Linked DNA regions of Homo sapiens. The protein of the gene in region 4 interacts with the protein of the main gene of each other region in a pairwise test. Each region holds a gene or a part of one and is shown on either strand. Other genes may lie near its edges.

Region 1 (4,530 bases), on a different chromosome or scaffold from region 4:
GGTCCTCTGACTCCCATCCGCTATGCCCCTCCCTCACTCGGGGTCCTCCCATCCGCTATGCCCCTCCCTCACTCGGGGTCCTCCCATCCGCTATGCCCCTCCCTCACTCGGGGTCCTCCCATCCCCTATGCCCCTCCCTCACTCGGGGTCCTCCCTCCCAGTCGTGATCCCTGATCCTTGCCCAATGTCACAACCCCACGTACCAGCCTGGACAGGACACTACGAAGCTCCGAGGTTTGGATTAGGAAATAGACCCTCCAACCAATCAATGCCCCCTGCCTGTCCCCCCTGCCCCTGACCTGCTGAACTCGTAGATGTCCTCAATGTTGGCAAACAGCGTGCCCACCTGCTCCACGCTCAGCCCCAGGACCCCGCCGTCCAGCAGAGGGCCCAGGTAGTCCTGTTGGGATGACTGGGGTTATGGGGGCCAAGGGGCTGGCCTGGGTACCCACTGCCCTCTGGTGTCTGCCCGCCTTACCTCCACGATGCTGCGGAGGTCCCTGACATAGGCCCGTTCTGTCTCCACGATCTCCCGGGCCACACGCTCCAGCCTTGAGGGTCTGGCTGAACCTGGGATCCCCACCGGAGAGAGATGTAGGCGGATGGGAGGCCCTGGAAGGGGCTCTGGCCTGGAGGCTGAGCAGGCTGGAGTGGGCCCAGGGGCTGGATCCCCCTCAGAGCCCACTGTGCTCAGGGATGTGGAGCTCCCAGAACCTCGGGGGGAGGCCATGGTGGGGGCTGCAGGAGCTGCTGGGGTGTGGAACAGGAGGTCAGAGAAATCTCCCCATGCACGGACTTCCACAGCCTTTCATGCGTTCAGCCCACACCCTCACCCACACCTGTCCAACAGCTTTCCCACAGGCTCCTTCCTCCTCTCCCCACTGCCCTGTCTTGGTCCAGTCCCATCCTCTCCCATCAGGGTCCTCTCTGGACTTCTGGCCTCCATTTCTCTAATCCACCTCCATGAATCAGCTAGGTAGACATTTATTAATTTGTCTATCTGACTGTATTACTCCCGTGAGTGTAACCCCTTCATGCCCCTGGGGATAAAGTCCAAACTCCTCAGATCCACAGGGCACTGGGCAATGTGGCCAACACAGATCCCTCTAGCCAGTTCTCTTCCCACAGCCACCCCTCTTCTTACACTCTGGATGCCAGTGACACTCAACTTCTTTCAGTCACTTACATGCAGCCTTTTCTCACCGCTGGGCCTTTGCACATGCTGTTCCTTGCATGTAGAATACTCTTCCTTGTCTTTGCGCAACTCCTTCCCCCTAATCTTCCACTTCCCAGTTGAGATGTTCCCACCTCCAGGAACCTTCCCCTGACCTTCCGAGCTCAGAGGATCCACGATCACAGCCCTGACCACTCTGCCCAGCGCTGCCCCCTCTGGCCTGTCATTGCCTGGGGATGGGCCCGCCTTCCCCACCAGACTCGGAGCTTTGTGCGAGTTGGCCTGGGGTTGTCTCCATCACCCTGCCTTGACAGCATTGCCAAGGAATAAAAGCCCCACAGGCTCCGCCGCCCCTGCCTCTAGGCTCACCTGTCCGAGTCTCACACACGGTGCCACAGTCACACACTTCACCTCTTCGGCCACACCCGAGGCTTGGGCTAGGTTTGGAGAGGCTCAGTCCTTGGGCTCCCTCAGGCATGGCTGAGCGGCCCAGCAGAGTCCTGCAGAAAGAGCCCCTTCTTGGATATCAGGACCCCATGGGCCTCTCCGCCGCCCAGACTCACAGATGGGGGCTGGGAATTAGGAGCGTGGTGTAAATCCAGGGAGGGGCCCCTGGGAGTAACTAATGGGGGAGGCACAAAGTGACAGAAAGAAGGGGACAAGGAGAGAGAACCTGGCGAAAAAGATGGAAAGGCTGAGACAAAGAAGAGTGAGCGGAGCAGGAGGCGCAGAAGCTGCGAGTCCCGTTTGTCTGGGGCCGGAGGCTTAGGGATCCTGGGAACGTTTGGGCTCCAGCTGGAGCGGAGGGCGAGGGGCAGGGCTGGGAAAAGCCGTGGGCGGGAGGCCGCGGGGTCCCAGGGGAGGGCGGAGGCTGGGGGACCGGATGCCAGGGTCCTGCAGACGGCTCCCTCCCCCGCCGAGGGCTGCGCGCTGGGGCGCTGGCCCCGAGCCCTCGCACCCCCTCCGGCCGGTCTCTCCGAACCCCGATCGCCGTCCCCACAGCCACAGCCTCCCCAGCGCCTTCCCACACCCCTCCAGCCCCCAACTCCCGCCGGCGCCTCGGCTCGCCCCCCGCCGGCACGCCCCCTCATTGTTCAGCAGTGGCGCCGCCCCCTCCCCCAGTCCGCCTGGGCCCCTCGCCTCCCCCCTCACCTCCCGGGGAGCCTCCAGCCCCGGCTCGAGGCAGCCCGGCTCCTGCGCGACCCCGACGCGGTCCCCAGGGAGGTGCGGAGCCCAGACTCAGGGGCGTGAACTTCGGGCTCTCAGGCTCCAGGAATAGAATCTGGGGTCTCTCGGAGACTGGGGTCCCGCAGTCGGAATTTCTCAGTGTTCTACGTAGGGGATGCTAGGAGCCTCGACTCTGGAGTCTCAGATGGCGGCGCTGGGGACCCACATTCCTAAGTCTTCTAGGTAGGGCCGTGGGGTGGGGGATGGATTTCTGAGTTCCCCTAATTCTAGGGGCAGGAATGAAACTCCCTCCAGGTGGGAGCACAGGGGGGTCCCAAAGTCCTGGGTCCCCTTGAAGCGATGGCCGCTGCAGCCCGAAACTGGTTGGGGCGCTTAGAAGTCCGGATCTCAAGTTCCTCCAACGCGGGGTCTTGGGATCGGAGCCCTGGAGGGAGTCTGCGGTCCTGGATCCTGAGTTCTTGAAACGGGGATACGGGGCGCTCGGCCTCCAGGGTCTCGCGGGGTGACGTCCGGGCTCCCGGCTGCTCCAGGAGGGGGCGCTGCGCACCTGGATGGCTCAAGTCCTCCAGCCTGGGCGCCGGGGTCTGGACCTCGGGGTCTCTCAGGATGCGGTGCAGAAATTCCGGACGCCCGGGTCCGAGCCTCTGGACCCCTCGGGCTCCCGGCTGGGTGTCACGGGGCTCGTGTGACGGCGGCGGCGCCACATCTGGGGCGGGAGAGTCCGATCCCAGCTGTGAGGCGGGGGGCGGTCGCCCGGGGCTTCCCCTCCCCCGCTGTCGCCGGGGCTCACATCCTGTTCCCGCCTGCGGGGGGGGGAGGGGCTGCCTTCCGGCCGACCCGCCAGCGAAGGGTTAAGACCCCACCCCTTGTTTTGAATATTCATGAGGAGGCGTGTCCTTCTGGTAGGCGACACCCCTACATTCCAAACGCCTCGCGGACTTTTCCCTTTTACAGCAAGGGCCGCGAGGCGTGAGAATCCGGAACTGGCAATGCACTGTCTCCTATTGGTCAATGCAAAATGTTTAATTTGCATATATAACACAAGGCGGGGCCCTCCGGTGAGGTCACGTGGCTATGAACCACTGAAGAAGACCCCGGCGCAGGGGTGCGGCCGGAGCTCCAGTGGCGCAATCGGTTAGCGCGCGGTACTTATATGACAGTGCGAGCGGAGCAATGCCGAGGTTGTGAGTTCGATCCTCACCTGGAGCACTTTTTTTCCCCATCAGTTTTTATAAACTTACACATCTAATAAACCAACCAAAACATCTACATCACTTAGATGAATGAACGTTTCTATCTTTTGAATTATTGGGCTCAAAAGACTCCTAGGGCTTTGGCGACGGTCCTTTGGGTGTTCTGTATTGTAGGGAGGTGCCGTTTCCGTCCCAGCCACCAGGTGGGGGTATCGTCTCTTATTAGATGCTCTGGGCATGGAATTGTGTGCAAACAGTTTGACTTCTGTAGAGATGTGGGTCCTCGGCAAACTGTATATGACTCTGCCTCCTCTGTATTTCTCTGTCTTTTTAATGCCTCCTTTACAGATGAACATAGCTATCTGTCTTGGAGTTTTCGACCTCTGTTGAAAAGGAAAACTATGTTTTTGAGTCGACTTGTTTTTTCAATAAATATTGAACATTCACTATGCCTGGCTTCCTTTAGCTGTGTGTAATACAGCAGTGAACAAGTAGTCCCTGCCCCTGAGGACGCGACATTCTAGTGGGGAGGCAGATTGCTGTCAACATAAGAATTAAGTACATTTTAATGTTAGGTGGTGATGATAAATGTCATGGAAAAAGTCGAGCAAGGTAGGGAGGATGGGGTAGTTGGAGGTGGGGTGTGGATTGCAACAGCAGTGGTCAGGGAGGATCTCACAGAGAAGGCAACTTTTGAGCAGAGACATGAAGGAGGGGAGTGAGCCATGGGGACACCAGGGGAGTGTTCAGGCAGAGGGAACAGCTAGTGCAAAGCTCCTATGGATGAAGCAGACCAGACTTGGTAGAGCAGCTAGGAGGCCAGTGTGGCTGGAGCAGAGTGGCCAAGGGGGAGGGTAAGCGATGGGTGCCAGATTGTGTGGGCTGTGGGGAGGACTTCGGACTTTGACTTTTATGTGACCTGACTCAGGTCTCATAACAGGCTTCCTTTGGTTGTCTCGTGGGGGAGTGGAGAAA
Region 2 (3,901 bases), on a different chromosome or scaffold from region 4:
TTTGAATTTAATTATATTGTTTTACTGTTTGTTTGTTTAAAGATTATATTAGACATCCTTGGTCTTTTAAAGGCTATTATTAATCAGTTTTTTTTTTTTAAACAACTCCTGGACAGTGAAATGACTTTAGAGCTCTTAAACTCTATGGATCCTCCTTATACTTTTTGATGCCAGTTTTGTAATTTGTTTTAATGGTAATAATACTAATATCTTGTGAGACTTTCAAAAAATGTTTTATTATAGCCAATATTTATTTGGATTTACTTACATACATACCCTTTTTATGACTCTCCCTTCCTTCCTACATCTCTGAATTTTTATCTGAAATTCTTTTCCTTCTGCCTGAAGAATTAGAAATAGAACTGTTAGTGATAAATTCACTTAGGTTTTGTTTTTCTGAACATGTTTTTAAGGCTCATTCTTGAAGGACATTTTTGCTGGATACAGAATGCTAGGTTGGTAGTTCTGTTCTTTTAGCACTTTAAAAATAGTTCACTGCAGTCTTGATTCTGTTGTTGCTGCTAAAAAGTCAGCTGTCAATCTTATTACACCTTTGAAGTTTTTTTTTCTGTCCTTGGTTTTCAGTAGTTTGACTGATGTACTTAGGTAACATTTTCTTTTTCTTTGTAATCTTCATTGGGTTTTGTAGATTTTTAATGTGAGGGTTGGTACTGTGTCAGTTTCGGAAAATATTCAGTCATTATTTCTTTAAATACCACTTCTCCTGAGTTATGTCTCTTCCCTCAAAGGTTCCAGTTAACACTTACATTAGACCCTTTCACTTTATTCTGTTTTTTTGCTCAATTCTTTTTCAATCCATTTGTTTTTCCATACTTCATTCTGCGTATTTTCTTCTGACCTAGCTTTTTAGGTTATTAATTTTTTTCTTCAGCTGTGACTATTCTATGCCTAATTTCTTAATCTTGCCATTTAATTTCTTGACTTTATTAAGAATAGTTATTTCTAAGCTAAAAATATGAAAATCTTATTTGAGTCTTTTGGCTCTGTTTCTATTGTCTACTTTTTTGTGTTTAGCCGTAATTTTCATCTTGATGCCTGGTTGTTTTGGACATTGTGTATCAAAATTTTGTCCATGTTGTATACCAAAAAAAAAAAAGTCGTCATGATAATTTGAGGTTCTTCATGATTTTATATTTCTCCAGGAGAATATTTTTACAGTTAGGCTAGGGCGGATCATCCAGTCAGTGGCTGAGATGACTCTAACGTAGACTTCAGCCGTTGTAAAGATTGGTCTATTTTTGTTTTGTTCTTATTCTCAGATTGTAGCCTTTCAGAGTCCTTGATAAGAGCATAGGTGTTTTTCAGGACCTCTTCTCCTAAGCAGACTTTGGACATTAATTTTTGCTTAGCTTTATTGCCCTTGCTGTTTTCTCTTTCAGAATCAGTCATTGTCTTGAGGATAGAGCAGTGCCAGATGTCTGGTCTGCCTCTTTCCTTCCTTCTTCCAGATTTTGGCCCTACTAATTCTCACTGCCTTGATATCTTACCAGTGTCTTCAAACACATATTTATATTTTTTTACATTTTGTTCAGTTTTTCTGATTGCACTTGGTTGTACTAAAAGAACCTAGTCAGCCATTCCAGAAATACATGAAGTTGTTTTGTTTTTATTATTGTAGTGGTGATTGTTGGTTTGTACTTTTGCTTTCACAAACTATTTCAAAGCAATTTTGATTTTTAGGGTTATATTTCCCAGACCTCTACTTTCACTGCCCATTGCCCTCTGCTGTTAGTGGTGATTAGGTGAAGAGTTTGAGAAATGTAATGGAAAGGGCGTGGGTTTTTTTTTTTTGTTTTTTTTTTTTTGAGACAGAGTCTTGCTCTGTCACCCAGGCTGTAATACAGTGGCATGATCTCGGTCCTGCAGTCCTGCCTCCCAGGTTCTAGTGATTCTTTTGCCTCAGTCTCCCAGGTAGCTGGGATTACAGGCACGTACCACAACGCCTGGCTAATTTTTGTATTTTTAGTAGAGATGGGGTTTCACCATGTTGGCCAGGCTGGTCTTGAACTCCTGACCTCAGGTGATCCACCCGCCTTGGCCTCCCAAAGTGCTAGGATTACAGGCGTGAGCCACCACGCCCAGCCGGGCATGGGCTTTTTAAGCACACAGACCTACATTCAAACTGTGGCTCCTTCTGATTGTGTCAGCCTATATGAATTAATTACCTGTTTAAAATTACCTTTTTAAAATTTCTCTTTCCTCATCTGCAGACGGGTTTAGTGAGAATGAAAAAGGACATTGAAATTAAATTTTATTTAAAATGAAATAATGTATGGACAGCTTCTGGTATATAATAAATGCTTAGTAAACTTATTTTTTTAATTATCTTGAGGAATAGGAAACTAGAGTTAAGACCAATCTTTTAAGGAATTTAATAGAAGTTTATAACTTCACCATATAGTAATTGTTAACAAAAGCTTAAAAAGGGCGTTTATGTCAATGTTTGGTTGTGGGGCAGTTCAACAGGCATCTGTGTCCCAGGTACCCTACTTAATCTCGTTAATATTATAGATTCCATCCAAAATCTAGATCTTGCAGTATAGAGCAGAGGTCAGCAAACTTTTTCTTTTTTTTTTCTGAGATAGTTTCACTCTTTTGCCCAGGCTGGAGTTGAGTGGTGCAGTCTTGGCACACTGCAACCTCCGCCTTCTGAGTTCAAGTGATTCTCCCACCTTATTCTTACCAATTCTTCCCAAGTATTCACCTTATTCTTCCCAAGTAGCTGTGACTGCAGGCATATGCCACCATGCCCAGCTAATTTTTTACCATGTTGTCCAGGCTGGTCTCAAGCTCCTGACTTCAAGTGATCCACCCGCCTTGGCCTCCCAGAGTGCTGGGATTACAGGCATGAGCCACTGTGCCTAGCCAGCAAACTTTTTCTATAAAGGGCTAGGTACGGTTTTGTGAGACATATTGCCTCTATTGTAGCTATTCACTCTGCTGTTTTAGGGCAAAAGTAGCCGCAGTCAGTATATAAATGAATGGGCATGGGTGTGTTCAAATAAAACTCTATTTACAAAAACAGGTAGCAGGCCAGGTTTGGTCCATGGGTCCTCAAACTGTGCTGACCCTAGTCCTCCACAAGCTACAAGTGTTTTTTTACGTTTATAAAGGATTGTTTAAGAAGAAGATGCAACAGAAACCACATGAGACCCAAAAAGCCAAAAATATTTTATTTCTAGTTCTTTACAGAAAGGGTTTGCTAACTTTTGGGTTGGAGAAGGGGTGGTGGTTGCTACCAGAGAAAAAGAAGTAGACTTCCGTACTCAGAGTTAACAGCAAAGAAAGAAAAACAACACGACAGGAAGCCCTGGATCCACAAAGGATCCTGGTGGGAAGAATAGGAAATTCTGTGTGCAATACTGACATACTCATCCATACCCCACCCCAACTGTGACTGTCCTACTAATTAATCTGGTTTTATGGATTTTCCATAATGTGCTGTTTTAGCAGCAAATAGAGGGGTAAACTCATAGATAATAGCTAAATACTGTTAGAAATTAACTTTCCGTTATAGCTAAATGTTACCAGAATTTTTACTCCGGTTATGTATACAGCTTTGATTTTATAACATCCTGCTAATTTTTGTTCTTACAGAAATACACTTTCGGGAAATGGCCTCTAAATCCTGGCTGAATTTTTTAACCTTCCTCTGTGGATCAGCAATAGGATTTCTTTTATGTTCTCAGCTATTTAGTATTTTGTTGGGAGAAAAGGTTGACACCCAGCCTAATGTTCTTCATAATGATCCTCATGCAAGGCATTCAGATGATAATGGACAGAATCATCTAGAAGGACAAATGAACTTCAATGCAGATTCTAGCCAACATAAAGGTATGGTTTACTTTATTAAGCAGTAAACATAAGCAGTATTTTAGTC
Region 3 (3,901 bases), about 42 Mb from region 4:
CATCCTGGAGCGAGAAGGCACAGGCTGGGACGCACTGGGCTGAAACCTCTCTGTAAGGCCCCCAGATCCCTGGACCACACTCACATCACTGCAAGGCCGGCTCTCTGGGAAGAGTGGCTGCACCAACGTCCCAAACACGGCCAGGTTGATAAGCGTCTGGGGCGGGAGGGACTTCACAGCCAAAACAATGGCATCCTGTGGAGGGCCAGGGAGGGCGGCGTGAGGCCGGCCCCATGGGCCCTGATACAGAGCAAGGGAAGCCAGATCACTGCGTTATCCAGGCTGTGATTCAAGTGAGAGGCTGTGGTAACCTGGGAGAGGCCCTGGGTGTGAGGGAAAGTGTGCCAGTGAGCCCCCAAGTGTGTGTGAGAGACTGTGTGGGACTCTGGAGGTACACATGACTGTGTGTGGGACTCTGGAGGTATACATGACTGTGTGGGACTCTGGAGGTATACATGACTGTGTGTGGGACTCTGGAGGTGTACATGACTGTGTGTGGGACTCTGGAGGTATACCTGACTGTGTGGGACTCTGGAAGTACACATGACTGTGTGTGGGACTCTGGAGGTGTACATGGCTGTGTGTGGGACTCTGGAGGTACACATGGCTGTGTGTGGGACTCTGGAGGTACACATGGCTGTGTGTGGGACTCTGGAGGTACACATGGCTGTGTGTGGGACTCTGGAGGTACACATGGCTGTGTGTGGGACTCTGGAGGTACACATGAAACTTGAGTGTCCCTGTGATTGGAGTGACTCCCTGTGACTGAGTGCGAGTCTATGTGTGAGAGGCTCTTGGAATCCTGGAGAGATGTGTGTGCGTGAATATGAGCAAGAGAGCGTGACAGTGTCTGTTTGGCGGTTGGAGCAGGGCTGCTGTCTAAGGGAATCCCCTGAGGAGTTGCCATCTGCTTCCTCTTTGGAAGATGGTGTTTGAAGCAACAAGGTAACTCCTGGCTTCAAGAGGCTGCCCCCAGCCCTCCTCAGACCCACTGCCCCACCCAACCCCCAGGCCTGCCCACACCACACCCCCACGGGCCTTGTGTGCCACGCTGCTGCTATCCAAAAGGAAGAGTAGCTCCCGAGTAGCTGTCCCCAGGTGTCCGGGCTTGGAGCTCAGGTCTGGGCAGAAGCTCAGCGCCAGCACGGGGTTCAGCAGGATGTCCTTGTGGAAGCGTCGCTGCAGGAACCACACCTGAGCGGGGGAGTCCCAAGTCAGCCTGGGCAAGGCTTAGTGCTACTTTGTTGAGGGTGGGCAGTGGGACTGGCTCTGGGGCCTTTTTCTGTCTGATCCACCCAGAGGGGACATCTTTTTGTAGTAATTCGAATAAAGGCAGGAGCAAAGGCAGGTGGCTGTCTTCTGTTTATATCAGACCTAGCCTCCATCCTCTGAGACACACCCCAGAGAGATTCACATCGGCCCTCCAATGACAATACTCATCTGTCCTCTGTGATGGTTGGTGGCAGCTGTGGAGAGATCTTACCGAGAAAAGAGGCCTCCCCGCACCCATTCCAATGTAAGCCTGCTTGCCTGCTCCTTGTGCACAAATGCAGCCAAGGCCAGGGGCCAGGCCAGGCTCCTATGGCGGTACCTGCCGGTCCCCATCACTGTCCCTTCGCTGTAGCCTCTGAAAATCTCGGCGGGCCCTCACCCGGGCCTCATATTCTGCTGAGCTCAGGCTGCCGCCCTCCAGCATCAGGTGTGGCTGATGGGGCTCTGAGAGGAGAGGACACAATTCTGTCAAGGAAGGCCCTGCCTCTGGACCCCAAGTGCCCAGTTTCACTGTCCAGGAGGAGCCTGCAGGTCCAGCCTTCCTGCACCACAGGCTCTGCCCTCACAGATGACTCAGTCCATCTGGCTGGGGCCCAGAAACCTGCACTTAAGAAATGCTTCCCCCATTCATGTAGAAGCAGGTCAGAGCCGGCCCACGGTGTGTCCCAGTCTCTCACCACTGGGGTGCAGCAGGATCTCCAAGGCCCGGTCACAGTGGTGGCCCTCTGCCAGTGTGACACAGATGGTGGCTGCAGAGCTGGCATGAGGGGGGGCATCTGCCCGCAGAGCATGAGAGGGGCTCTCCAGGCCTGAGGGACATAGAGGCAGGAAGGGGAGATGTAGCCATAACACCTTCCCAGGGACAGCAAATGTTGGCAGGGGTCATGGCTGATTCAGTCAGCTCTCAGAGTCTGATCTATATGGGGTCAGATGGACGAGGGAGGATGTGCCTGCTTTCATGGGCTGGGAAGTAGATTCCAGCAGGGTTTCTGGCTGGTCGAAGAGTCATGCATCAGCCAGGTGCTGATTTAGCATTCACCCCCCACCTTCTGTGTAAGGAAAACCTACTTCATCACAGGTACTAGTCCCATTGTAAGTATCTCTCTTCCCACTGCTGGGTGGGATGAGATATAAATAAATTACCTTGATAAAATTGGGGTGTGTGTGTTGGGTAGAGGTGACCAGGGGATGCTCCCACCACTAACCCAGATGTTCCGGAGGCTGGGGTCCCTGTCTTTTTGTCCTGTGTCCCTCCTATCCCTGAGCCTTATTTCCCTTCCAGTCACTACACTGGGTGGAGTGGGCATCTGAAAAGAGGGCAGGCCAGCCAGATGCACCCACCTGCAAGCAGGCATGGCCCAGTCACCAGCATCTCGAAGGAGAAGGTATATGGGGCAGGGCAGCGGGCAGGGCCTGAGAACACGTCCCGAGGGGCAGCCAGCTCCTCCCAGGCCAGCCCTTCCTCCTGAAGGCTGCCCACCCCGAAGCAGCTGGTGGGGCTGGAAGGGAGCATGAGGAGGGTCACTGGGCCACTGTGAAGGCCCCTAAACCCTCCGGCTGACTGGCCCCAGCCCTTCCTCACCCTTCCCATCCCTGGGTACCCTGCCAGTGCCCCCTCACCCGCACTAGACCCAGAGAAGCCGAGGGAGGGACGAAGAGAATCACCATAGGCCCAACCTGTCGTCACAGAGCCCCGGAGGCCTGGGGGGCCCCGGCGGGCCTGGCGGGGCCAGCGGGGTGAGCACAGTGGGCAGGGCCACATGCAGCACCCCGTCAGGCCTTGAGGGCAGCTCCCGGCTGCTGTGCAGGGTCACCGTCATGGTGCCAGCCGCGGCGATAATGCCTGTGGGCAGCACCAACGTGGACCGGGCCTGGGCCAGATCCAAGACAAGATGACCTATGATGGGTGAGAAATGGGGTCAGAGCATGCTGGAAGCAGAGGAGAGGGAGGAAGCTAGATGTGGAAGCAGGCATTGGGTCAGGGAGCCTGGGCAAGGGGGACTTTGCGTGTTGGCACTAGGCTAATGCATTGGTGACGCAGGATGGAGGCATGAGATGAATGATGGCAGGAGAGGCAGACTAACTGTGAACAGATCTGGCTGTCATCAGGCAAGAGCAGCAGTGACATCCTTGCTAATGGAAGGCTGAGGAGAAGGGGCCATGTCCACTCTCAAGGCCCTGGGAATACCCACACCCTCTGCCCCTCTCCCCCTGCCTGCCTCTTTCCATTCAACCCTTGGCCACCATCCCTTGTGGATAGACATCTCCCTGTGGCCTGGGACCCCACTCTGCTCATAAATTTCCTGCTCCTGAACCATCAGGAGCTCCCCCATTGCCCACTAAGGTGGCTCCAGAATTCTCTACTCCTCCCGGGCAGGAGGAATAGAGAAGCAGGAAGCAGGCTGGAGGACATAAAGCTCCATTTGCACACTGCACACACTGTTTTATTTAGCTCCTAGGTTTGTTTGGGGACTGGTGGGGCTGCTAAAGGAATAATGACCAGCCATGTACAGTGGCAGCTGTGTACACCACCGACGTGGTCTGGCCCCAGCCCACGTTCACAGCCCTACTGTACCTCACTTCCTCACAATGACCAATTGTTCATCCTTTCAATAAATACTTGCTGAAT
Region 4 (3,901 bases):
CTTTCCAGGCCCTAAAGAAGGCCCTAACCCAAGCCCCAGTGTTAAGCTTGCCAATAGGGCAAGACTTTTCTTTATATATCACAAAAAAACAGGAATAGCTCTAGGAGTCCTTACACAGGTCCGAGGGACGAGCTTGCAACCGTGGCATACCTGAGTAAGAAAACTGATGTAGTGGCAAAGGGTTGGCTTCATTGTTTATAGGTAGTGGCTGCAGTTGCAGTCTTAGTATCTGAAGCAGTTAAAATAATACAGGGAAGAGATCTTACTGTGTGGACACCTCATGATGTGAATGGTATACTCACTGCTAAAGGAGACTTGTGGCTCTCAGACAACCATTTACTTAAATATCAGGCTCTATTACTTGAAGGGCCAGTGTTGCGACTGTGCACTTGTGCAACTCTTAACCCAGCCACATTTCTTCCAGACAATGAAGAAAAGATAGAACATAACTGTCAACAAGTAATTGCTCAAACCTAAGCCGCTCGAGGGGACCTTTCAGAGGTTCCCTTGACGGATCCTGACCTCAATTTGTATACTGAATTCGCATACAATTCGTATACAATTCATTCGTATTCATATACATACAATGAATTCGTATACAAAAAGTCCTTCATAGAAAAAGGACTTTGAAAAGCAGGGTATGCAGTGGTCAGTGATAATGGAATACTTGAAAATAATCCCCTCATTCCAGGAACTAGTGCTCAGCTGGCAAAACTAATAGCCCTCACTTGGGCACTAGAATTAGGAGAAGGAAAAAGGGTAAATATATATACAGACTCTAAATATGCTTACCTAGTCCTCCATGCCCATGCAGCAATATGGAGAGAAAGGGAATTCCTAACTTTGGAGGGAACACCTATCAAACATCAGGAAGCCATTAGGAAATTATTATTGGCTGTACAGAAACCTAAAGAGGTGGCAGTCTTACACTGCCGGGGTCATCAGAAAGGAACGGGAAATAGAAAGGAACCGCCAAGAGGATATTGAAGCCAAAAGAGCCGCAAGGCAGGACCCTCCATTAGAAATGCTTATAGAAGGACCCCTAGTATGGGGTAATCCCCTCCAGGAAACCAAGCCCCAGTACTCAGAAGAAGAAATAGAATGGGGAAGCTCACGAGGACATAGTTTCCTCCCCTCAGGATGGCTAGCCACCGAAGAAAGAAAAATACTTTTGCCTGCAGCTAACCAATGGAAATTACTTAAAACCCTTCACCAAACCTTTCACTTAGGCATTGATAGCACCCATCAGATGGCCAAATTATTATTTACTGGACCAGGCCTTTTCAAAACTATCAAGCAGATAGTTAGGGCCTGTAAAGTGTGCCAAAGAAATAATCTGCACTGCAGGCCATACATTTCAATCCCTGTATCTTTTTATTTTTATTTTTATTTTGAGATGGAATCTCGCTCTGTTGCCCAGGCTGGAGTGCAGTGGCGCGATCTCACCTCACTGCAAGCTCCGCCTCCTGGGTTCACGCCATTCTCCTGCCTCAGCCTCCTGAGTAGCTGGGACTACGGGCGCCCAACACGACGCCCGGCTAATTTTTTGTATTTTTAGTAGAGACGGGGTTTCACCGTGTTAGCCAGGATGGTCTCAATCTCCTGACCTCGTGATCCACCCGCCTCGGCCTCCCAAAGTGCTGGGATTACAGGCGTGAGCCACCGCGCCCGGCCCAATCCCTGTATCTTTAACCTCCTTGTTAAGTTTGTCTCTTCCAGAATCGAAGCTGTAAAACTACAAATCGTTCTTCAAATGGAGCCCCAGATGCAGTCCATGACTAAGATCTACCGCGGACCCCTGGACCGGCCTGTTAGCCCATGCGCTGATGTTAATGACATCAAAGGCACCCCTCCCGAGGAAATCTCAACTGCACCACCCCTACTACGTGCCAATTCAGCAGGAAGCAGTTAGAGCAGTCATCGGCCAACCTCCCCAACAGCACTTAGGTTTTCCTGCTGAGAGTGGGGACTGAGAGACAGGACTAGCTACATTTCCTAGGCCGACTAAGAATCCCTAAGCCTAGCTGGGAAGGTGACCGCATCCACCTTTAAACACGGGGCTTGCAACTTAGCTCACACCTGATCAATCAGAGAGCTCACTAAAATGCTAATTAGGCAAAACAGGAGGTAAAGAAATAGCCAATCATCTACTGCCTGACAGCACAGTGGGAGGGACAAGGATCGGGATGTAAACCCACGCATTCAAGCCGGCAACAGCAACCCCCTTCGGGTCCCCTCCTTTTGTATGGGAGCTCTGTTTTCACTCTATGTCACTCTATTAAATCTTGCAACTGCAAAAACAAACAAACAAACAAAAACAAACTAAAAATAGAGCTACCATATGATCCCAGCAACCCCACTGCTATCTGTGTTAATATAACCCAAAGAGAGGAAATCAGTATATCGCAGATATCTGCACTCCTTTGTTTGTTGCTGTACTGTTCACAATAGCCAAGATTTGGAAGCAACCTAAGCGTCCATCAACAAATGAATGGATAAAGAAAATGTGGTATATACACAATGGAGTACTATTCAGCCACAAGAAGGAATGAGATCCTGCCATCTGCAACCACATGGGTGGAAATGCAGTTCATTATGTCAAGTAAAATAAGTCCAGCACAGAAAGACAAACATTGCATGTTCTCACTTATTTATGGAATCTAAAAATCAAAACAATAGAACTCATGGACATAGAAAATAGAAAGATGGTTCCTAGAGGCTGGGAAGGGTAGTCGGGGAGTCAGGGGAGAGGTGGGAAAGGTTAATGGGTATAAAAGAAAAACTGAAAGAACGAATAAGACCTAGTCTGGGCACGGGGGCTCACGCCTGTAATCCCAGCACTTTGGGAGGCCGAGGCGGGCAGATCACTTGAGCCCAGTAGTTCAAGATCAGAGTGGGCAACATGGCAAAAACCCATCTCTATTTTTAAAAAGATTTAAATTAAAACAAACAGAACAAAAAAACACAGGCCAGGCACGGTGGCTCATGCCTATAATCCAAGGACTTTGGGAGGCTGAGGTGGGCGGATCACTTGAGGCCACCAGGAGTTGGAGAAGAGCCTGGCCAACACGGCAAAACTCCATGTCTACTAAGAACACAAAAATTAGCTAGGCGTAGTGGCACACGCCTAATCCCAGCTACTTGGGTGGCTAAGGCACAAGACTTGCTTGAACCGGGGAGGCAGGGGTTGCAGTGAGCCGAGATTGCGTCACTGTACTCCAGCCGGGGTGACAGAGCGCGACCTTGTATCCAAAATAAAAAATAAAAAAAAAGAATGAATAAGACCTACTATGTGATAGCACAACAGGGTGACGATAGGCAATAATTTAAAAACAACTAAAAGAGTGTAATTAGATTTTAACACAAAGGATAAATACTTGAGTGGATGGATACTCCATTCTCCATGATATGATTATTACACACTGCATGCCTGTACGAAAACATCTCATGAACCCCATAAGTATATACACTATGTTTCATAAAAAAAAATAATCATAATAATCCCAGGCTTCATTTCACTTTTTTAAAAAATACTGTTTTACAACATACTAATATACCATGTCTATTTTAATATGCATTTCTATATGCTATATGCTATAGCTAATAAATTAATTCACTCAAAAAATATTTACTGAGTACCCATTCTGTTATGCTGCTTTGGTTTTTTCTTTTTCAGGCACCTCTACTATTTGTCTTCTTTGCCTATCTTTCTTATCGTTACTTTTTCTTGAATCTTTTAAATCTATTTTATTTTTTAAAATTTCATCTTTCCACTGCCGATTGTTTTCTCAAATGGTATCATTTGCTCGTCTTGCTTCTATTTGAGGCTCAGCTCTGCATTTTTTTTTCATTTACTTCTAACTTTCTCTGTCATCTCATTCTCACATTTTCATAATTGATA
Region 5 (3,131 bases), on a different chromosome or scaffold from region 4:
TAGTGAGAATTGCTTTGTACGCAGGCCACTACATCTCTACCCTGAAACTCCCAGGTCTTCAGAGCAAAAATACTAACCCTGGAGCTCTCAGTTTTCCTGGCTTACTGCGTAAGCAGCAGCAGCAGCTGATATAAGCCTCTGGGGTTAATGACTCTGCATCAACTCTATCCTCCCCAGGACAGAGGCCATCTAGCCCCCAACCCTGCCACTAGTGGACCCCGTTGGCTGAAGCCAGGACCCTGAGCCCAGACTATAGCCAGCCCAGCTGAAGACACAGGGTCTGGGATCTGAACCTGAACCAGCTTGTTCCTGGGAGGCTTCTTACCTGTACTCTTTATCCTTCAGGCTTCCGTATCCATGATTATTTGTACTTTCAAGTGCTGAGTCCTGGGGACATTCGATACATCTTCACAGCCACACCTGCCAAGGACTTTGGTGGTATCTTTGTAAGTTAAGGGAGGCCCCTGATCTCTGATCCTCAACCTCCCCCTTCCCCTCACTGAGCTGCAGTGACCCTCTCATCCCACCTGAGTGCTGGGACAGGGAAGGGAGCAGAATCAGCTCTGCCTTCCATGAGCTGCAGCACAGAAAGGAAGCTCTTCCAGCTACTCCCCTGAGTATAATATAAACCTAGGCACCATGGAGGGACAAGTTGTCTTTTTAGGGGACATGAAGTGAAAAGCCAAGAGCACCAGCTTCCTCTGCCAGCTCTACCTGTGAACTATGTGACTTAAGGCACATCACTTCCTCTCTCTGGATCTACAACCAAGTCCCCTGCCTATCTCATAGAAGGGTAGGGTGGTGTAGGACAACCAGATAGGCCTTTGCGAGAATTAAGTAAAAATGTTTAAGTGTCTGGCGATACAGAAACCACTCCATGTTTCCTTCACACTTTATAAGGTGCCAATAAGATGGGATTGTCAGCCCAGTCCTAAAGCAGGTGTGTCTCATTACACTCTCACCTGTCCAAATGTTAAATGTTTTTCAGCACACAAGGTATGAGCAGATTCACCTTGTCCCCGCTGAACCTCCAGAGGCCTGCGGGGAACTCAGCAACGGTTTCTTCATCCAGGACCAGATTGCTCTGGTGGAGAGGGGGTAAGGAGTGGGCAGGCAGGACACGAGGAGTGGGCAGGCATACGGCAGATTCTGAGATTATTGGTAGTAGTGCTTTGAAAGAGCTGTTTTTGAAAATTTCATCTTTTTAAGCGTCTTTAAGAAATGTCTAGCCTGGGCAACATGGAGAAACCCTGTCTGTACAAAAAATACAAAAATTAGCTGGGCATGGTGGTGCACACCTGTGGTCCCAGCTACTCGAGGCTGAGGTGAGAGGATTGCTTGACCGCATGTTAAGGCTGCAGTGAGCCGAGATCACGTCACTGCACTCCAGCCTGGGCAACAGAGCAAAACCCAGTCTCCAAAAAAAAAGAAAAAGGAAAAAGAAATGTATTTAAATTATCCATGCTTTTAGCTATTTACTTATGAGCCTTTATAACAGATTCTTCATAGTCTGCCTTCTATACTCCCAGGGTGATGGTCTGGGGAAGGGGGAGCTAGGACCTGTCTTTCCTTTGGTCTTATCACCACCTCTTCCAGGGGCTGCTCCTTCCTCTCCAAGACTCGGGTGGTCCAGGAGCACGGCGGGCGGGCGGTGATCATCTCTGACAACGCAGTTGACAATGACAGCTTCTACGTGGAGATGATCCAGGACAGTACCCAGCGCACAGCTGACATCCCCGCCCTCTTCCTGCTCGGCCGAGACGGGTGAGGGCTCCTTGCCTCTGGCTTTATCAGCACCAGGCTGGGCGCCATGACTGGGTCAGGGGTAATCACCAGTCCCTTCTTGCAGGCCTCAACTTGGGGTGCTTCAGTTAGAGGGCAAAAAAAGATCTCGGGCTTTGGAACTCCCAGATTGATGGGGACAGTGGGGCATGATGGGGTACCAAGAAAGTGACCGTCACCACCTCTCTTCATGCCCTCCCAGCTACATGATCCGCCGCTCTCTGGAACAGCATGGGCTGCCATGGGCCATCATTTCCATCCCAGTCAATGTCACCAGCATCCCCACCTTTGAGCTGCTGCAACCGCCCTGGACCTTCTGGTAGAAGAGTTTGTCCCACATTCCAGCCATAAGTGACTCTGAGCTGGGAAGGGGAAACCCAGGAATTTTGCTACTTGGAATTTGGAGATAGCATCTGGGGACAAGTGGAGCCAGGTAGAGGAAAAGGGTTTGGGCGTTGCTAGGCTGAAAGGGAAGCCACACCACTGGCCTTCCCTTCCCCAGGGCCCCCAAGGGTGTCTCATGCTACAAGAAGAGGCAAGAGACAGGCCCCAGGGCTTCTGGCTAGAACCCGAAACAAAAGGAGCTGAAGGCAGGTGGCCTGAGAGCCATCTGTGACCTGTCACACTCACCTGGCTCCAGCCTCCCCTACCCAGGGTCTCTGCACAGTGACCTTCACAGCAGTTGTTGGAGTGGTTTAAAGAGCTGGTGTTTGGGGACTCAATAAACCCTCACTGACTTTTTAGCAATAAAGCTTCTCATCAGGGTTGCAACTGTGTCCTAGAATAAGAGCACACGGGTGGGCAGGACCTTCAAACTCACTCGTATCGTCCCATACTGTCGTTCTGAGGAAAGGAAACACCCACAGAGGACAGTGACTGGCCTAGGTCATTTGGGACCAGTGCTCAGACTGCTAGTCTTAGATCCCAGCACAGCTTCCTGCTAGGAGCCAAGGAAGCCCTGGGAAGCCAGAGTTCAGCCCCTCAGGAGAAGACTCATCTTAGAGCCTGGAACTGGGGGTCCAAACTGGACCTCAGGGCTAGGCATGGTGGCCCATGCCTGTAATCCCAGCACTTTGGGAGGCCGAGGTGGGAGGATCAGTTGAGGCCAAGAATTCAAGACCAGCCTTGGCAACAACATAGCAAGATCCCATCTCTACAGAAAAATTAAAAATTAGCTGGGTGTGGTGGTGTGAGCCTATAGTCCCAGCTACTCAGGAGGCGGAGGTGGGAGGATCACTTGGGCCCAGAAGTTCAAGGCTGTAGTGAGCTATGATTGCATTGCTGCATGCCAGCCTGGGTGACAAGGTGAGACCCTGTCTCAAAATTTAAAAACCACCCAAACTGGACCT
Region 6 (3,901 bases), on a different chromosome or scaffold from region 4:
TTTGCCAGGCTGGTCTTGAACTCCTGGGCTCAAGCGATCCACCTGCCTTGGCCTCTCAAAGTGCTAGGATTATAGGTGTGAGCCACTGTGCCCGACCTTTCCTAGAGTTTCTGATTGTTTTTTTTTGTTTTTTGTTTTTTGTTTTTTTTTGGTGGTTGTTGGTAGAAAGAATGTATATTTTCTTTAGGATTCATTTTATTCTTCTTGAATGCTGCAGTTCTAATTTGGACAGTTACTATGTGGAATGTAGTAGCCTTGTTCAGTTTTTTGTTTTTCCTAGAGTTTCTAGCTGCCTTTTCTTTGTTTTCTTGCATTTTCTACTATTATCACATCTTTATTTTTTTCCCAAATTCTCAATTATATTCTTTAATGTATTATAACTTCTTTTGTTTTAGAAATCAACATCCCAGAAGCCCGTATCTGTCTGTTTCATTATGAATTAATGACTGTGTAAGCCTGCTGCAGCACTGTCACCATGGGACTTCCCTCCCCTGTTGATCAGGGTTGAATCCACTGTTTTTCCAGTTACCACATCTTCTTTTTTTTTTTTTTTTTTTTGGATACAAGAAGTATTTACTTTGGCCGGGCATGGTGGCTCACGCCTGTAATCCCAACACTTTGGGAGGCCAAGGCGGGCAGACCACCTGAGGTGAGGAATTTGAGACCAGCCTGGCCAACGTGGTGAAACCCCATCTCTACTAAAAATAATTTAAAAAGGCTGGGCGCAATGGCTCACGCCTGTAATCCCAGCACTTTGGGAGGCCGAGGCAGGCAGATCACGAAGTCAGGAGATCGAGACCATCCTGGCTAACACAGTGAAACCCTGTCTCTACTAAAAATACAAAACATTAGCCGGCTATAGTGGCACGTGACTGTGGTCCCAGCTACTCGGGAGGCTGAGGCAGGAGAATCGCTTGAACCCAGGAGGCGGAGGTTGCAGTGAGCAGAGATCATGCCACTACACTCCAGCCTGGGCGACAGAGTGAGACTCTGTCTCAAAAACTAAAAAATAAATTAGCCAGGCACGGTGTTGCGTGCCTGTAGTCCCAGCTACTCGGGAGCCTGAGGCACAAGAATCACTTGAACCTGGGCAGCAGAGGTTGCTGTGAGCCGAGATCACACCACTGCACTCCAGCCTGGGCGACAGAGGGAGACTCCGTCTCAATAAATTTAAAAGAAAAAAGTATTTATTTTAGTTTGTTTATTTATTTATTTTTTTTTTTGAGATGGAGTTTTGCTCTGTCGCCCAGGCTGGAGTGCAATGGCATGATCTCTGCTCACTGCAACCTCCACCTCCCAGGCTCAATTGATTCTCCTGCATCAGCCTCCCCAAGTAGCTGGGATTACAGGCACACACCACCATGCCTGGCTGGTGTTTGTATTTTCTGTAGAGACGGGTTTCACCATGTTGGCCAGGCTGGTCTTGAACTCCTGACCTCAAGTGATCCACCTGTCTCGGCCTCCCAAAGTGCTGGGATTACAGGCGTGAGCCACCACACCCGGCCGATATGTTTTCTTAGAATTCTCATCTCTTTATCTTTTTATTTTATGTTCCAATCTGTTAAACATTTTTGCATTTCAGTTCTCATGTTTTAATTTCTAAGGGCCTTTGTTTCCTTAATTATGAATGCTTCCTTTAGGGATCAACTCTCTCTGTGGGCCTTTCTTTTTTTTCTTTTCTTTTCTTTTCATGTTAGACGTGTAAGGTGCTGATGTAAGAACAAGGTTTGAGGGAGGCACATCTCAAACATGCACATGAACACCCAATCATCGTGCCTAAGAACTACAAAAGAATCAGGTTTTCCTTTTAAATTAAAAAAAAAATGTTTTAGAAGTAGGGCCTCGCTTGTCACCCAGGCTGGAGTGCAAATGGTGTGATCATAACACACTACTGTCTCAAAATCCTGGGCTTAAGCAGTCCTCTGGCCTCAGCCTCCCCAGTAGCTAGGACTACTTGCACATACCACCACACCCAGCTATTTTTTAAACAGTTTTTTTGTAAAGACAGGATCTCACTATGTTGCCCAGGCTGTTCTTGAACTCCTGGTCTCAAGTGATTCTCCTGCCTTGGCCTCCGAGAGTGCTGCATGATAGGTGTGAGTCACTGTGCTCTCTGCCTTTATTATTTTAAAAATGTAATATAAAATGCATTCTGGCCAGGCATGGTGGCTCACACTTGTAATCCCAGCACTTTGGGAGGCCAAAGTGGGCGGATCACTTGAGGTCAGGAGTTCAAGACCAGCCTGGCCAACATGGTGAAACCCTGTCTCTACAAAAAAATACAAAAATCAGCCGGGCATGGTGGTGCATGCCTGTGGTCCCAGCTACTGAGGAGGCTGAGGTGGGGAATCACTTGAATCTGAGAGGCAGAGATTACAGTGAGCCAAGATCACGGCACTGGATTCCAGCCCAGGAGACAGAGTGAGACTCTGTCTCAAAACAAACAAACAAACAAAAAACGCATTTAGTGAGATACATAAAGTGCACAAGTCATATATACATCTCAACAAATTTTTCTTATATATACACCCATGTAAACAGCATCTAGATCAAGATTTAAAACATCACCCCAGAACATTCTCAATCAGCACTTCCATCACACCTGTATAGCCCCCATCCTGACCTCTACCATTGTCCATCAGCTTTCTGTAGACCTTTTTTTTTTTCTTTTGAGATAGGCTCTTGCTCTGTTGCCCAGGCTGGAGTGCAGTGGCATGATCTCGGTTCACTGCAACCTCTGCCTCCTGAATTCAAGCAATTTTCCTGCCTCAGCCTCCTGAGTAACTGGGATTACAGACGCCCACCACTGTGCCCAGCTAATTTTTGTATTTTTAGTAGAGGAAGGGTTTCACCATGTTGGCCAGGCTGGTCTCGAACTCCTGACCTCTCAGGTGATCCACCTGCCTTGGCCTCCCAAAGTGCTGGGATGACAAGCGTGAGCCACCATGCCCGGCCTTCTGTAGACTTTTAATTTAGGTTGTAGAGTCATCTCATACAGGCTTCCAGGTAATCCAAGTTGAAAATTACACACATTTTTAAATTTTGCTACAGTTACTTAAGTGTAAACACAGTAACTTGTATTTTCAGAGTAAAGCAAGTGGCTAAGGGCAGCCAGTTTGACTGTGCCTGGCATGGAGTCAGTGCCAGAGTAGTTATTCATTCGCAGAAGTAAAGGTCTGACTTCAGAAGCCACTGATAGCAAAGGGCTGTGGTCTTTTTCTTTGAAGTTCAGCCAGTATGCAGCTATTTCTAGTTCTTTCCATCTTGTTGCAATTTATTTTACCGTAATAATGATGCTGTTAGAATTCTTTTAGAAAGCTGACACCTAAATTTCAACATTGGTTTAGATTTAAAAGTTTTATTTTTGTGATTGTATTTTTGTCCTGCTTTTGTTCTCAGATCTTTAAAAAATTATTTTGTTCCATTTTGAAGCAGTAGCAAGTCTGACTATGGAGGGGAATTATAGCTGTATATGAGCTTGAATGTACTATTCAAACGTGTTTCCTGCTAAACTTACATTCTGTTGCATTAACATAATTATAGCAGAGCTGACTTCATGTCTTTATAAATGTTTATCATCTATTTGGCTTCAGTTTACATCTTTTTATTATAGTGTCAGATAGTGTCAGGCCATAATTTTAAACAAAAACTGTTAGTTAATTATAATTCAAATGGATAGGAGTCAAAAAGCAGCTATTCTTTCATTAATGACTTTATTATTTTTTCTCTTATTACAAAAGTTCTCTGATTTTGTGGCTTTAAAAATATTAATAAATGTTCTGTGTATTACTCTGTATTTTTTAATTTTAAAAATGTAGGGTAGGCCGGGCACGGTGGCTCACGCCTGTAATCCCAGCACTTTGGGAGGCCGAGGTGGAAGGATCTCGAGGTCAGGAGATCG

Evidence for each region.
Region 1: the proteins of XRN1 (region 4) and PLEKHG2 interact in a two-hybrid assay, tested with the Homo sapiens proteins (one large-scale study listed by BioGRID).
Region 2: the proteins of XRN1 (region 4) and C1GALT1 interact in a two-hybrid assay, tested with the Homo sapiens proteins (one large-scale study listed by BioGRID).
Region 3: the proteins of XRN1 (region 4) and VWA5B2 interact in a two-hybrid assay, tested with the Homo sapiens proteins (one large-scale study listed by BioGRID and IntAct).
Region 5: the proteins of XRN1 (region 4) and PRADC1 interact in a two-hybrid assay, tested with the Homo sapiens proteins (one large-scale study listed by BioGRID).
Region 6: the proteins of XRN1 (region 4) and TMEM50A interact in a two-hybrid assay, tested with the Homo sapiens proteins (one large-scale study listed by BioGRID).

Annotation. Positions count from the first base shown.
Region 1 is NC_000019.10:39,411,209-39,415,738, reverse strand, and holds the start of PLEKHG2 (pleckstrin homology domain-containing family G member 2), read right to left. Parts: upstream 3,071-4,530; 5' UTR 2,327-3,070; intron 1,961-2,326; exon of another isoform or gene 1,848-1,960; intron 1,675-1,847; 5' UTR 1,653-1,674; coding exon 1,544-1,652; intron 748-1,543; coding exon 479-747; intron 401-478; coding exon 300-400; intron 1-299. UniProt on the Homo sapiens protein: May be a transforming oncogene with exchange activity for CDC42. May be a guanine-nucleotide exchange factor (GEF) for RAC1 and CDC42. Activated by the binding to subunits beta and gamma of the heterotrimeric guanine nucleotide-binding protein (G protein).
Region 2 is NC_000007.14:7,230,685-7,234,585, forward strand, and holds part of C1GALT1 (glycoprotein-N-acetylgalactosamine 3-beta-galactosyltransferase 1), read left to right. Parts: intron 1-3,618; 5' UTR 3,619-3,635; coding exon 3,636-3,855; intron 3,856-3,877; exon of another isoform or gene 3,878-3,901. UniProt on the Homo sapiens protein: Glycosyltransferase that generates the core 1 O-glycan Gal-beta1-3GalNAc-alpha1-Ser/Thr (T antigen), which is a precursor for many extended O-glycans in glycoproteins.
Region 3 is NC_000003.12:184,232,446-184,236,346, reverse strand, and holds part of VWA5B2 (von Willebrand factor A domain-containing protein 5B2), read right to left. Parts: intron 3,170-3,901; coding exon 2,950-3,169; coding exon of another isoform or gene 2,938-2,949; exon of another isoform or gene 2,893-2,937; intron 2,772-2,892; coding exon 2,614-2,771; intron 2,082-2,613; coding exon 1,950-2,081; intron 1,717-1,949; coding exon 1,592-1,716; intron 1,195-1,591; coding exon 1,039-1,194; intron 196-1,038; coding exon 85-195; intron 5-84; coding exon 1-4.
Region 4 is NC_000003.12:142,441,359-142,445,259, forward strand, and holds part of XRN1 (5'-3' exoribonuclease 1), read right to left. Parts: intron 1-3,901. UniProt on the Homo sapiens protein: Major 5'-3' exoribonuclease involved in mRNA decay. Required for the 5'-3'-processing of the G4 tetraplex-containing DNA and RNA substrates. The kinetic of hydrolysis is faster for G4 RNA tetraplex than for G4 DNA tetraplex and monomeric RNA tetraplex.
Region 5 is NC_000002.12:73,227,428-73,230,558, reverse strand, and holds the end of PRADC1 (protease-associated domain-containing protein 1 precursor), read left to right. Parts: intron 1-345; coding exon 346-446; intron 447-988; coding exon 989-1,098; intron 1,099-1,596; coding exon 1,597-1,764; intron 1,765-1,984; coding exon 1,985-2,105; 3' UTR 2,106-2,549; downstream 2,550-3,131. UniProt on the Homo sapiens protein: Plays a role in the modulation of physical activity and adiposity.
Region 6 is NC_000001.11:25,344,583-25,348,483, forward strand, and holds part of TMEM50A (transmembrane protein 50A), read left to right. Parts: intron 1-1,691; exon of another isoform or gene 1,692-1,795; intron 1,796-3,901.